Homo sapiens: one gene and its partner. The protein of the gene in region 2 interacts with the protein of the main gene of each other region in a biochemical or structural test. Each region holds a gene or a part of one and is shown on either strand. Other genes may lie near its edges.

The links.
Region 1: the proteins of WDR76 (region 2) and NRAS form a complex in vitro, tested with the Homo sapiens proteins (one study listed by BioGRID).

The regions. Positions count from the first base shown.
Region 1 is NC_000001.11:114,703,654-114,706,783, forward strand, and holds the end of NRAS (GTPase NRas), read right to left. Parts: 3' UTR 816-3,130; downstream 1-815. UniProt on the Homo sapiens protein: Ras proteins bind GDP/GTP and possess intrinsic GTPase activity.
Region 2 is NC_000015.10:43,864,858-43,868,784, reverse strand, and holds the end of WDR76 (WD repeat-containing protein 76), read right to left. Parts: intron 2,658-3,927; coding exon 2,393-2,657; 3' UTR 373-2,392; downstream 1-372. UniProt on the Homo sapiens protein: Specifically binds 5-hydroxymethylcytosine (5hmC), suggesting that it acts as a specific reader of 5hmC.

The DNA of each region.
Region 1 (3,130 bases), on a different chromosome or scaffold from region 2:
CAGAAAACATCCTTTCCTCTTTTCCGTTATTAGAGGGTCAAACATTAGAACAAATTTTTGTAAAATGTATATGAAAAAGAAATAGAACTGTGGACTTTGTATGTTTCTCTCTCAAACTATCACCTAGGTCTCTATATGAGGTGATAGTTTGAAAGATACAAATTCCCTAATTCTATTTCTTTTTCAAATACATTTTATAATTAAAATATTTACTCTTTCTAGTTGTCCTAGCTAGAAAAAATATTGTCATTTAAAATTGGTTTTCCCAAGCTTACTTCAGCCACATGTTAATGACCTACCTTCCCTGCCTCCTTTTCAAGAAAAAAAAGTGAAAAAAAATTTTGATGTCTTTGGTAGAGTAAACCAAGGTCTCCAAAATTAGTATTCCAGTGTTAGTTGAAAATGCCTAGGTTTGATATTATTCTTTTTAAAGTCTCCTTAAGGTTGGGAAATCTGATATATCCTAATTCAACTCTTCTATTTTGCAATTGAAGAAACTGGGCCGGCGTAGTAAAATTATATCGGGCCTCAAGTTCTCCAGCCCCTAGCATCAATGCTCCTCCACCTATACCAAGATGGCTAGATTGTGCAGTAATGCAAAAACGAGACAAAAGAGCTCCAATGGCATCTTAATGTATGCAAATCTGACAAATAGCTATGAATCATCCCCAAGGTAATACTTTAAAGCAGGCTTTGATATATTTGATGTTATGATGAAATGAGGAACTCAGATATTCCAACACTTCCAAATGTCACATCCAAAAGTTTGAAATTAATATTAGCATTCTATAAAGGCACTTCAGTGAATATAAGAATTATGACTAAGCCAAGAACTTCCAGTTTTTATTTTTTAAACATCATTTAACAAGAAAAAACATTCAACCAAATTAAAAAGAACTAGGTTGGATTAATTTACAATAAAATAATCAACTTAAAATATCGGCCCTTCCATTTAGGGCCAAGGAGGCCAATAGTTCCTGTTTAAACAGCAGAATTGCACAATTATTTTTACCTATATTTGATGGCACAAAAAAATAAAAGTCTTACAACTTCCACGGACATCCTCCCCTCCCTCCAGAGCAGAGTTCATACAATTCCATCTTAGGTCAGTACTCAGGCTTTTAAAAATCATCTTACGTTTTGAAATATAATACAACTACTCTGGTAACAAGAATACTTTTAAAACAATTCTTATAGAAAACAAATACCTTAGATAATTGTGTGGCACATTAGACTGCTCAAAGAAACAGCAAAGATGAAAAATAATGTACAAGAATTATAGTCCCTTGTTTATAGAAACCATCCAAATAAAATATTTTCCCTAATTTTCCTTGCTTCTTATAATTTATTAGCAGAGATGAATTACAAGAAGCAGAACGCACCATTTTTTGGTTCTTGGTTGTAGCTGCCAACTTAGGAGTTCATGACTATAAATATAAAGCAAATATGATTATGCTCACAAGCTCTGGAATGGTAAAAAAACCCCACATATCTCTAAAGTGTTTCTCTATCCTTGCTTTCAAGTCATGACAAAAAAATTCACAGCAGTTTAAAGGATGGTGAAAGACTAAACATGGGCCCACTAAAATAGAGATTAATTTTACCTATTACACTCCTATAGTAAAAATTGTAATAAGTATGATATTGTATTAAGTAACATTCTATAGTAAGCCGTTGGAGCAAATACAGCATTTAACAGGTTCATTTACAGATCCGGCATGGTAGCCTTCAGACAGAACATCTTATTTTCACTCTTGAACATGTAACCTTTAAAAAAACCAAAAGGAATATGTAATTTATGACAGCTGGCCAGGCACTTAATTTGGGGAAAGAGAAGGATTTTGAGGTAAACTAGAATTCTTTTCAGCAATCACAAACATAGCCTAAAAACCACGTTTTATACCACACTGAAGTTATTCAGCTTTTAACTATAAGTTTGTCACTCCTTTGTGCCAAAATTCACACCTAGGTGTAACTTTTTTTTTGGAGACAAGTCTCTCTTGTCACCCAGGCTGGAGTGCAGTGGCACGATCTCTGCTCACTGTAACCTCCACCTCCTGGGTTGAAGTGATTCTCCTGCCTCAGCCTCTCAAGTAGCTGGGACTACAGGCACGGGCCACCATGCCCGGCTAATTGTAACTTCTTAAGGTATTCAAAGAACATACTCAAGTCTGAATTTTGGCCCCATTTAGAAACTTCTGTGCTTAGAACATACTTGGAAAACTCTAAGTACATACATACAAGGGCTATTGGCACAAGAGCCCAAGATGAGTAACTATCTTTCTCCCTAATTTGACATCAAATTTAATAGATTTTTAAGAAAAAGAATCACTGCCAGTCACAGACATTTAAAAAAGAAATGACTGAGGTGATAAGCCTCAGGAAAATTACAGAGTAGCACTGCTCCAGAAGGAGCAGAAACAGAAAAGCAGAATTTCCATTTACAAATGATGACAGTACTGTGAAAGCTCCCAGAATTAGCAGTAAGAAGCACAACTCTGCAGGTTCATTATACTCTGGACACAGTATATGTTTCTTCTCTTCTGAATTTCAAGGTAATATGACATTTGCTTAATAAATGAAAATTCATAATATAGAAGATGGAGGACCTCAGTAAGTATTTAGATATTAAAGACAGGAACAAAGTGGCCATTTTGGAATTAGTCTTTTATCAAAAGTTATCCAAGTCTATTTTTCATGAGAATTACCAGGGTATTATCTGCAAATTAAAATGCCAAGCCTCCAAATCCTCATAGGTATCAATTAATTATATTTTCCATTCCTGTCTCAACAATTTCAACTTCCTGTTTTGAGCAAACTCATCAGCTTAGATTTATCAACATCTTGTTTTAAACCCTTCAAAGAACATTATGAATAAAGAGAATTTAAAACGTTTCTCAGCTGAGACATCCTCATTCTCAAATGAGAATATTGGCTTAATTTAGAGTTTCTACATGGCTAAAAGAAAAAAAAATGTTTAAATACGTGATACTGAGTTTTCCAGTCATGGTAAAGGGTTTGTGCTAACTGACCTCTTCTTTCCTTGCAGGGCTAACTGCAGCTACCTAGCAAAATTACTAGCTGGAGTTACTGGTGCAATGAGCAAATGCAGAAGAATTTCTTTCTCTGT
Region 2 (3,927 bases):
GAATTCAGAGCTTAAGAGATATCATAAAGGCCAAACTTACAGAAAAGGCTTATCCCGAAGGAGGCAATCATAATACACACATAATTACAGAAGCCACACAGCTGTAGGCAAGTCTGTGGGAGAAGTACCTTTCACTACAGATTACAGTGTAAGAATGTCCCAAGGGAGACAATTTTCTTTTATGTGCTGTCTAGATTTAAACAATTACTCCATTAGAAAGCTTATCACCAATAAAAAAAAAAAAAAGTCCCTACTCATTCTCCTTCCTTCCTGCACTGCCTGAAGATATAACTCTATAAAGTATAACTGAATATAAATAGCACTGTTTATGAAGCCACAATGGCAAAAGAAACCACAAAAGTGAGGAACATCAAGAATTTGCTAACATTTATTGACGAGCCCAGGCAATTACTGCCAAGTATTCAAAGCTTAAATGATGGTACTAATTTGATTGAGAGTAGTTTTCAGCATCTTTAAAAACAAAAACAAAAACAATTCCCGTAGAACTAACCACTCTAGAACCCATGAGATTAATTGGTATAGAAATGAAAAAGGGAGCCTAAAGCCTTTACGATGTTTCCTGAACAGTTTAATTATAACTCAACCTCACCTAGCTTTTCTTTCCCTTTATAAATTAACATTTCCATCTCACTTGTCAATTCTTCTACTTATATCAACTAGAAAATAGAGAACTATTGCTTATAAACACCTAAACCTATTAAAAAACTAAACCTTTTTACACTTAGATTACAGAGAAGAAAATTATTTAGAAATTGGTTTTCAAGGAAATTGTATATCACTATATTTCTCTGATATACAATTATGGGAAAATATTTCCTCTTAGAATTCAAACATATTGCCAAAGCCATTTACAAGTCTTTCAGTATTTGGCAATGAAGAATAATGAAAAAAGTTGGATAGATGTCACACAGTAATATTAGTAACTGATTTGGCAGCTCCCCTCCCAACAACAAACACATTGAAATTACCATAACTTCTGAAAAGAAAACATTTTCATAAAATACCAAAAGTGGTGAGTATTTCATAATATTCCCCCAAATACAAGTAAGAATGAAGGTATTCACTTAACAGGCTATTGAATTTCCTTCGGACAGTTTAAAGATCGGGACAGGTAAGCCTGGGGCCTTCTTCATTCTAAGCAGTAGCTTTAACTTCTTTATCCATTACCCATGGTACTATAGTAATAAAATATATATATATATATATTTTACATCAGAATACACATAAACATATATACCTAACAAATATATATGCATATGTAACTAAGTTTTACCAAACAATACTTACTCAAATATATTTTCTGTTCTTTACAAATTCTTTCCTTTTCATTTTTTTCAACACCAGTCATTGTCATCTAACTTGATTTCATGTGAAGAGCAAAAACCCAGTCTGAAAAACACAGGTCTGAGGCAATCTTATACTGGAATGCCGGGACCAGGGCAGATCCCAACCCGGTGCTTGGGAGTCCTGCCTGTGTCTCAGGAGCCATCTAGAGTAAAGGCAAAGTACAGACAGACCCAGACCCCGCCCTGGGTAACCAAAGCTGCTCAGCAATTATCTTGGCATTTCACGTAAGACTTAACCTACAGGCAGGGGGCAAAAAAAGTTCTCAGTTAAAAAAATCAAGTTTTAAAATCACTGAGTTACATTACCTTTCCGGGTCCCCTTCCAGTGTATGAGTCTAGAAATAAGTATTCATTATAAACTATAAAATAAGCCACAAATTACTATAGAATCAAAACTGTATCATTAGATCACAAAAACTTTAATAGTCAAAGCTTTGTAATTTATAATGTTAGAATTTCTCAACATACTGTCTTGATTACAAGTTCTGATGGCCAGGCATGGTGGCTCACGCCTGTAATTCCAGCACTTTTGGAGGCCGAGGCGGGCAGATCACCTGAGGTCAGGAGCTCGAGACCAGCCTGGCCAACATGATGAAACCCCATCTCTACTAAAAATACAAAAAAATAGCCAGGCGTGGTGGCAGGTGCCTGTAATCCCAGCTACTTAGGAGTCTGAGGCAGGAGAATCGCTTGAACCTGGGAGGCGGAGGTTGCGGTGAGCCAAGATCGCGCTATTGCACTCCAGCCTGGGCAACAAGAGCAAAACTCCATCTCAAAAAAAAAAAAAAAAAAAAAGTCCTGACGGCACCTCAGCCTCCCCTCAAATTCCCTCCCCGTCCTGCAGAAGCAACCCTCCAAGACTTCTCCCTTACTAAAAGTACACTCTTCTTATAGTCTTATTAATAAAACAATGTTATAATTGCTAAATGTAACACATTACCACATAAACACACTAAGGCACGCCGATTACTAGGCTCCTTAGACAGTGGTCAATTTGAACAAATTGATGTTCCTAAACCAAAAACTCAGCAGCTTTTTTCATTCATAAAAACATGTATCTTCCCGCTGGAATTACCTCCAGCCAAAATATACCGAGTTGGGTGCATGGCATTGATGGAACACACAGAGACAAGGTATTCTCCACCAAACGAATGCACCCTCTTTCCTGTCTCATGGAAGATTTCTACCCGTCGTGGATGGGCCATGCTGCCAACTATGACACAGTCTTCTTGTTTAGGATCCCACATGGCTTGGAACCTGGTCAGCCATCGCCCAGTGAAAGTGTTGTGCCTAGTGAGGAAAACAATATATTTTTTAAATGAAGTAAGGTTAAATAAGGTAGCATTGGGCAGAGGGTAAAGACGGCATTGCTCCTAAATGCTAGTTTTCTCTGCCAAGTTTCTTCTCATTAAGTTACTGAGTTACCACCAACCTTACCTCATCCTTACAGGACTGAACCTCTGGACAGAGACGATATCCTCCTCATCTAAAAATCTCCCAAAATAAAACATATGGAGCCCTTTATAGTTCCCAAAAGCAAAAACAGAAGTACTGCCCTTTTAGTCTTTTTGCCTTAATATCACTAACAATCCTTTTTCATTAAAGTATGGACTACACATTTCCCACTGCCACTTAAATGACCCCATCATTAATGAAAATTCTTACCCCCTAGAATAGTCACCCTACATAAATTTTTTAAAAATATACATAATATGGCCAGGCACAGTGGCCCAAGCCTGTCATCCCAGCACTTTGGGAGGCCGAGGCAGGTGGAACACCTGAGGTCAGGAGTTCGAGACCAGCCTGTCCAACACGGCGAAACCCAGTCTACTAAAAACACAAAAATTGGCCAGGTACAGTGGCTCACACCTGTAATCCCAGCACTTTGGGAGGCCAAGAGGGTGGATCATTCAAGGTCAGGAGTTCGAGACAGCCTGGCCAACATGGTGAAACCCCGTCTCTACTAAAAATAGGAAAATTAGCTGGCCATGGTGGCGGGTGCCTGTAATCCCAGCTCCTAGGGAGGCTGAGGCCGGAGAATCACTTGAACCCAGGAGATGGAGGCTACAGTGAGCCAAGATTGCACCACTGCATTCCAGCCTGGGCAACAGAGTGAGACTCTGTCTCAAAAAAAATAAAAATAAAAATACAAAAAGTAGCCAGGCATGGTGGTGCTTGCCTGTAATCCCAGCTACTGGGGAGGCTGAGGCAGGAGAATTGCTTGAACCCAGGAGATGGAGGCTACAGTGAGCCGAGATTGCACCACTGCATTCCAGCCTGGGCAACAGAGTGAGATTCTGTCTCAAAAAAAAAAATAAAAATACAAAAATTAGCCAGGCATGGTGGTGCTTGCCTGTAATCCCAGCTACTGGGGAGGCTGAGGCAGAATTGCTTGAACCCGGGAGGTGGAGGTTGCAGCGAGCTGAGATCGCGCCACTGCACTCCAGCCCCCGTGTCAGAGGGAGACTCCATTTCAAAAAATTAAAATTAAAAATTAAAAAATAAAATAAATATACATAATACTGGCTGGGCACAGTGGCTCATGCCTATAATCCCAGCA